Homo sapiens: one gene and its partner. The protein of the gene in region 1 purifies or fractionates together with the protein of each later gene. This does not show direct contact. Each region holds a gene or a part of one and is shown on either strand. Other genes may lie near its edges.

What was found. Proteins that work in one complex are often made in the same cells at the same time.
Region 2: the proteins of ELAVL2 (region 1) and ZNF326 purify together in Homo sapiens (affinity purification with mass spectrometry; 2 studies listed by BioGRID and IntAct, with this or other methods). This does not show direct contact.

What each region holds. Positions count from the first base shown.
Region 1 is NC_000009.12:23,690,241-23,693,894, forward strand, and holds part of ELAVL2 (ELAV-like protein 2), read right to left. Parts: intron 3,247-3,654; coding exon 3,208-3,246; intron 3,076-3,207; coding exon of another isoform or gene 3,054-3,075; exon of another isoform or gene 2,962-3,053; intron 2,648-2,961; coding exon of another isoform or gene 2,645-2,647; coding exon 2,317-2,644; 3' UTR 1-2,316.
Region 2 is NC_000001.11:90,008,542-90,012,195, reverse strand, and holds part of ZNF326 (DBIRD complex subunit ZNF326), read right to left. Parts: intron 2,109-3,654; coding exon 1,910-2,108; intron 1-1,909. UniProt on the Homo sapiens protein: Core component of the DBIRD complex, a multiprotein complex that acts at the interface between core mRNP particles and RNA polymerase II (RNAPII) and integrates transcript elongation with the regulation of alternative splicing: the DBIRD complex affects local transcript elongation rates and alternative splicing of a large set of exons embedded in (A + T)-rich DNA regions.

The DNA.
Region 1 (3,654 bases):
CTGTACAACTTCAAATAAATACCAGCCTTACATTTTATTAAGTGCTCTGATAAAACACTGTAAAGTGAAGCACAATTTGCATGCCCTCTCATCAATGCCTTGGTTTGCTACAGTAGTATAGGAAAGAAGCATGTAGCTGCTGTTTTCCCTTGAGGGAAACCTTATTATTTTTTTTTAAGTATATACATGTATTTTATTTTTTAGTGTTTTTCTTTTTTTAAACGCAGAAGGTTAACTCTGGCAATCTAAATGCACCTAAGGATATGAGAAAGTGCTAAGCCAATTGATTTCTGAATAGCATTGAGTGGGTCAGCATGAAAACTCGCTTATTCACTTTAGCACGCGCCTCACAGTATATGTACTGTACTATACTGAAAAATTTTATAACTACAATTTTAAATAATAAAAAATAAAACTCAAAGCAACCGCAAAGATAATGTACAACTATGTTATGCATAGCACATTGCCTGTTCTAAGGGGAAGCATGTGAGCATCTCAGTTTATACAAAAAGCAGGACGTAACTATATAGTTCTCAGTGCATCCTGATGAAGGCATTTTTGCCTTCAGCTTTTTTGAAAATTTATTATAAGCTAGATGCTAATCAGAAAATATTTTGTATTTTTTAAAATTTCTTTCATACATGGTAAAGACTTATTTTATTATTTCCCCAAATAGTGGTTTTTAAGCATCATACAAAGTTAAATTTCAATAGCATACAGATATTTATGATTTTTGTATGAAAAATGTAAGGAAATTTGTTCAAAACCTATGGTTATACTCATTTTTTTATACCACAAACATATTTATAAACCAAAATGTAGCATCACCATAAACAGCTGAAGCTAGACTATCTACAGACAAAATTTGCAACAAATCTGATGCACTGTAAATTCAAGTCCTCAGGACAACAAAAGTGATTAAGCAAGACCTCAAGTAACAATGTTAATGCCATTTACAAAGGAAAAAACTGATACAAAAACATTCAAAACCTGAACATCACTTGGCATGTAAGGGAAAAAAAATTAAATTAGCTGAAAGGTTCATAAACACAAGGTCTTATTTACATTACACAAAGCTCAGGTGTTAGCCTTGAACGTAACTTTCAAAATACCTTCAAATATATCCAACTCAGATCACTTTTGCTGATTTGCTGCAGTACAAATCATGTGCAACGTCTTTTTTCCTTAAGACAAAACAATTCTTCAAACAATACTGCAAGTACATCACTAAACACCATGAGCTCTATCTGAAGGGATTTCTTTAGGAAGAACAGATTTTTTCCCCCATCTCTCGGTAATTTAAATTTCTTGCCTGCTCTTATATATTCTTTTGTAAATTTTTTTTATTTGTTTCAAAATCACAAATCAATGTGAGCCACCTATCACATAATAACCAGGATGATCAGACGCTCCACTGGTGATTACAAAAATGAAACCAGCAGTGTTTCCCCCCATTGATTCTACTCCTTTCATACAAAGATCTCAAAAGTATTTTCTACACCATAAATCTTTCTAAATTTTCCAACCGCTGCAAATTTCCTGGTAAATTTTAAAAGCTCACTAGGTGTCATATGAAGAGATTTCTCAAAGTATTCAAGTCAAAATATTTGTTCCAGGACCAGTAAAAAGTTTCTCCAAATTTTCTTTTTTATAAAAATAGATGCTTTTTTTAAACCCACATCAAAGAGGCTCTTATCTCTTTGGCAAGGTACTGCTTTACGAAAAGTTCTCCAGTATTCTTACAATAAGCGTTTATAATGTAGCCCCCCCTTCCCCAACCCAAATCATAATTACAAAATAAATACTGTTTTAAACTTCATAAATAAAAATGTAAACTTCAAAATACTTTTCTTAAACAGACATAACAGCAATGCTTTAAATGTAAACCAAACACAAAGCTAATCAGAAAAAGGAAAAAAAGGGGGGAAAAAAAAGACACAACCAACTGAAGAATTACAACACAAAGCCTCAATATTTACTCACAGGTTCAAGGCAGTTATGTAAAAAGAAAAGAAATGTCTTCCCTTAGCTGAAACACTTTAAAAGGTCCACCTTCTTCAAAGAAGGCAATAGAATGCAATGTGACAGGTAAAAACCCTGTACCTCTTGTCCATATTCAAACATAAAAGATATTTAAGAAGTTTTAATTCAAATACTAGCAATAAAAAATCTCACATATTTCTTAGGATGCTAAGTAGTCATTTTATCCCCATCTCAACACTGACTTACAAAGACATTTACTAATGTATAAAGTTTCTCTTAACTTGCCTTTGTTGTATAGTTTTCATATATAAATGGACTGAGGACAAGAGCTCATTAGGCTTTGTGCGTTTTGTTTGTCTTAAAGGAGACCTGCAGTACTCTGTCTCCCAGACGGTATCCATTGAGGCTAGCTATCGCCATGGCAGCCTCATCATAGTTTGTCATAGTCACAAATCCAAAACCTTTGCATTTATTGGTGTTAAAGTCACGGATGACCTTCACATTGGTGACAGCTCCAAAAGGCCCAAACATTTGCCACAGGATACTCTCATCTGCGTCAGGAGCCAGGTTGTACACAAATATACACCACCCTGTTCCAGGGTGCCCAGGGATATTAATTCCAGCCAAACTGGTCATTCCGTCAATGGTCATTGGAGAAAACCTGCTAAACAGAATAGGAAATACACACATACACACAAAAAATAAAAACAGAGGTTGGTTATAGCAATGAACGTATACCTTTTCCATCCCCAAGAATTTTAGTAACTCTCCTCCCCCAACAAATATATAAACTATTTCATGTTTTGACCAAGGTCTGTGTGTGGCTTTGCAGTGACATGCTAGACTACTGAGATATTAATAAGTTATGAAATGACCATTATTCACTGTACTGAATATCATCCACAATAGCAAAGAAATATATTTAGAACTGGCTTCATGAATTAAGCAGGATTGGCAGGGGAAGGGATCAACACATACGTAAACATGCTGTAACGTCGTAACGCAATACGAAACAAATGATGGGTTTTTAAAAGACCAGGTGGCATCCGGTGGTATAAAAATTTCTTGAGTCAATTGTGCTTCAAAGAGCAGCTTTTCATTAGGTTGCACATGCAAAATAAAACCCAACAAAAACTTATGAGGGGTGTGAATAGCACTCCCAAAATCAAAGAAACCAATCAACTGTGGAAAGGGATTATGAGTATCATGAACCTCTATCATTACCTCTTTACTCCATAAGCCATATTGAGCAGATTGTCCAACCTGCAAAACACACATTTAGCAAACTTCAGTTTTTAATTTTTCCCCTTGATGTTCAAGAAAGTTGGGCTCATTACTGCCATCTTCCGAGGGGATATCTGTACACTGATTATATGTGAAGACTCAGAATGCTGGGTCTTTTTACGTTTTTAAGCTAATGGGCACCGACTGCCACAGGACAGTTCTTCCAATGAATGGTTTCTCTCTACAAGGGTCAGTACATGGGACACAGTGACGGTCATCTGAGGATACCTTTCAGAGAGGAAGTGCGAAAGCTCTGGGATAGTTAACTTTAGGGTTCTCATCAGGTAGCTTCAAAGTGATCAATGTATAGCTACATGTTCTTTATACTACTTTTGATTTTCACAACTCTGTTGGTGCCTGCAGATACCTAAGGCACACAGGGTTTAA
Region 2 (3,654 bases), on another chromosome or scaffold:
TTCTACCTTTTGGCAATTATGAATAATGCTACTATAAACATTCATATATAAATTTTTGTTTGGACCAGGCACAGTGGCTCATGCCTGTAATCTTAGCACTTTGGAAGGCTGAGGCGGATGGATCACTTGAGGCCAGGGGTTCAAGACAGCCTGGCCAACATGGCGAAACCATCTCTACTCAAGATACAACAATTAGCTGGGCGTGGTGGTGCACATCTGTAGTCCCAGCTACTCAGGAGGCTGAGGAACGAGAATCGCTTGAACCCAGGGGCAGAGGTTGCAGTGAGCCAAGACTGCACCACTGCACTCCAGCCTGGGCAACAGAGTAAGATCCTGTCTCAAAAATAAAAATAAATAAATAAATAAATTTTTGTTGGAATACTACTTTAAATTCTTTGGAATAGAAGAATACCTAGAAGTGGAATTGCTGGATCATATGGACAGTCTATGTTTAATTGTTTCAGGAAGCACCAATCTGCTTCCCACAGTGGCTTCACTGCTTTACATTCCCATCAGTAATGTGTGAGGGTTTCAATTTCTCCATATCCTTGTCAACATTTGTTATTTTCCTTTTTTTATTATGACCATCCAAGTGGGTATGGAGTGGTAACTCACTGTGAGCAGGTTCTTTCTTATAATACATTTAACTTTATACTTAAAAAAAAAAAAAAAAAAAAAACTTAACTATTTGCCCTTAAATTTTTCCTTTTATGCACTGCTTATCCTTTTGGATGGCCTTTGAAAAATCTACTTATTTATATATTACCTCAAATAAGTAATTTAATCTTCCTTTCATATGCTAAAACTATGACATGTTGTACTTCTAGCCAAGTGACAGAATAGGGTTCCTTTCCTACTAATTTTCTATAAAGTCACATAGTCTATACTATAGCATAGCAAGACCTTGTATTGAGGAAAATTCAGCAATCATCTTTTTAAATGCCCATTTTACACCTGACAGAGAAGGCATAATTTAAAGAATTTTAGTTTCATTCTTAGCTACACAACACTTTTCTCAAGTTTTGTTATATAAAAAGGGGGTATGGGGGAGGGATACATATATATCTGCTTTAAGGGCAAATCAGTTTCTTTATCAAACTTTTGCAATATTTAACCATACGTGCAAAATATATCTTTGAAATAGGTCCCAAGAGAATCAACTGAATTTTCTATTATAGTAATGTCTAATAAAATGTCAAATTTGATACATAACAGTCTATCAATTGACACACTGTTAAAGGTATCCCCACAACACATACTCTGCTTAGTATCAGGTTTCCAGAACTCCAGAAATTCCAGAATATTGTTTCTTATTAAACAATAAGGCCTGATGAGAAAGTAATTTAAGTACACCTTTTAAACCTTTTTCAAATTTTATATTATAGAAAATATATTTTGAGGAAAGAATCTAACATTGCAATTTCAGTTTTTTCAAATATTACATATTAAAATGTCTATAATGTCATAATTAGGGAAAAAGTTATTTTAAAATAAAAGGGAAAAATGAATACAAAGCAAATTTCTGTTACAATCATATGGAGGTTTAAGAACAGGACTTCTAGAGCATGACTTGCTCTGGAATAAATACTGGCATTACCATTCACTGGTTGTTTGACTTAGGCAGCAAATTATTTATCTATTCTGTGCCTGTTTTCTCAGCTGTAGAGGGTTTGATACACAACCACAAGGATTCAGGAAAAAGGAATGGACCAGGTTATGTACATTTTAAAAGTATCTTTGGGTATTCATGACCAATTATTAACTGCAATAGGGGATTTACAGATCTAACTTCTACAATCATAATTGTTATGTAGTTTCTGTATATAAACATGAAAAAATTACCAAAAAGTATGGAATTTTAAAAAATAAAAAGTATCCTGAATCATAGCAATTATGTTTTCTTACTTACTGGGTGATTTGCTGAGGCTTATCTTCTCCATAGGTTTTGCTAGTTTGGGTTTCTTGATAAAGGTTCCACTGGGCTTATTAAATGGCTGCATCATTTTTCTCTTTATTCCTCTTGCAGCAGCAACTGTCACATTGGTGGATTTGTTTTGATAGTCAACAACAATTCCGGGTCTATGAATGCTTCCAAAATCACCCATATGCTGTAAATTTGTGAAATCAATAAATATTAGCATATTGTCCAAGAAAAAATATGAATTCATATAAAATTTTCATGTTAACTATCTACTAATTTTCACCTGAAAATTCCCTGGAATGTAACTAAATTTTACATGTCCATTCTGAAAAAACACATTGAAAAACTCTGTAAATTATTACATAAACTCAAATCCATTGAATTAGTATTTTTATTTCCAGTAGAACAAATAATGAATATTTGCTAACTATGTTTTTACTTTTACATTTCAAAATTACTTGAGATTATAGACAACATATGTGCCTGTCCAAATGTTACCACTTGTACAACTCTCTGACAACTCCTCTTCAGAGTTCCTAATTGATGTTTTCCCATGAAAAGACCCTAAAAGAAATCTTTATTTTACTAAAACTAAGATACACAAAGAAGACCATATTTGTAGTTTGAAGTAAAAAAGATCCAGAAATCATTTAGTATTCTCCCTGTTGAAAAAGGGAATGAGAAGGCGAGATGGAACATTAGTATGAAATAGGAGAGTTAAAGCATAACCATGCATCAACTTCCAAGACACACTTCAGATAAAGAATTGCATCTGACGTTCCATTCACATTCTTACCTAGAGAAACATTTTCTGACCCAGAAGCCCAAGAAACAAAAGTTTACAGATGAAGAGTCATGCAACCAAACGACTCTTTGTGTCCCTTCCTCTTCTCTTGTCATTATCCAAATCTACTACACCAAGAGGCCACATGTCCACAGAAATTTATTCTGCTAATCTTACTTTTAGAAGATAAAGATGGAGGAGTAATCTGAAGAGAAGGACCCAAGGGGAATTGTACAAGTGAAGATTTAAAATGTAGGTCCTATTGGCTCATCTACTTCACTAACAGGAGGAAAGAAAGAAAAGTCCATTCAGACTAGAATGGTAAATACAAAGTACAGGAATACTTGTTTATTATGAAAACGAAATTTACTTTTGAAGCCTCATTAAGAAAACACACTTTGTCTAAAATAATATACAGCATGGAAAATATTAAGTGTTTTCCAAATTTTCAAACTAGAATGGATTTTCAATTCAAAACCCAAAGCCTATCATCCCAACTATTTTCAATTAACCTATGATCATGAAGTATAGTGGAACTGTAATGTATCAGTTGCTTACATTTGTATACTATGCTCAGGAATGCCTATCTAACCTAGTTGTGTTTCCAGGTAATTTAAAAAGTCACAACAGGAAAATCTTCCTTAATTACGCATTAAAGGTGCAATGCATTTTTACATAAGTAAAGAGTAACTGTTAAAAATGCAAAATTTCTACACAAGTATAACAAGCTACACTGACATATCAAAAGCTAATAACCAGTCAAAAACGTGTACCCTACTACCTTTTTTACTAGAAATACTTTCCTCTGCAAATAAAATATTAAGAGCAGCTGACTTAAAAGGATTCTTACATTATAACAAAAATACAATACTCTTTAAATGATCAAACTATATAATAACCCCACAATCTGCATACACTTACTAGGTAAATTTTCATGTCAATCAAGTGA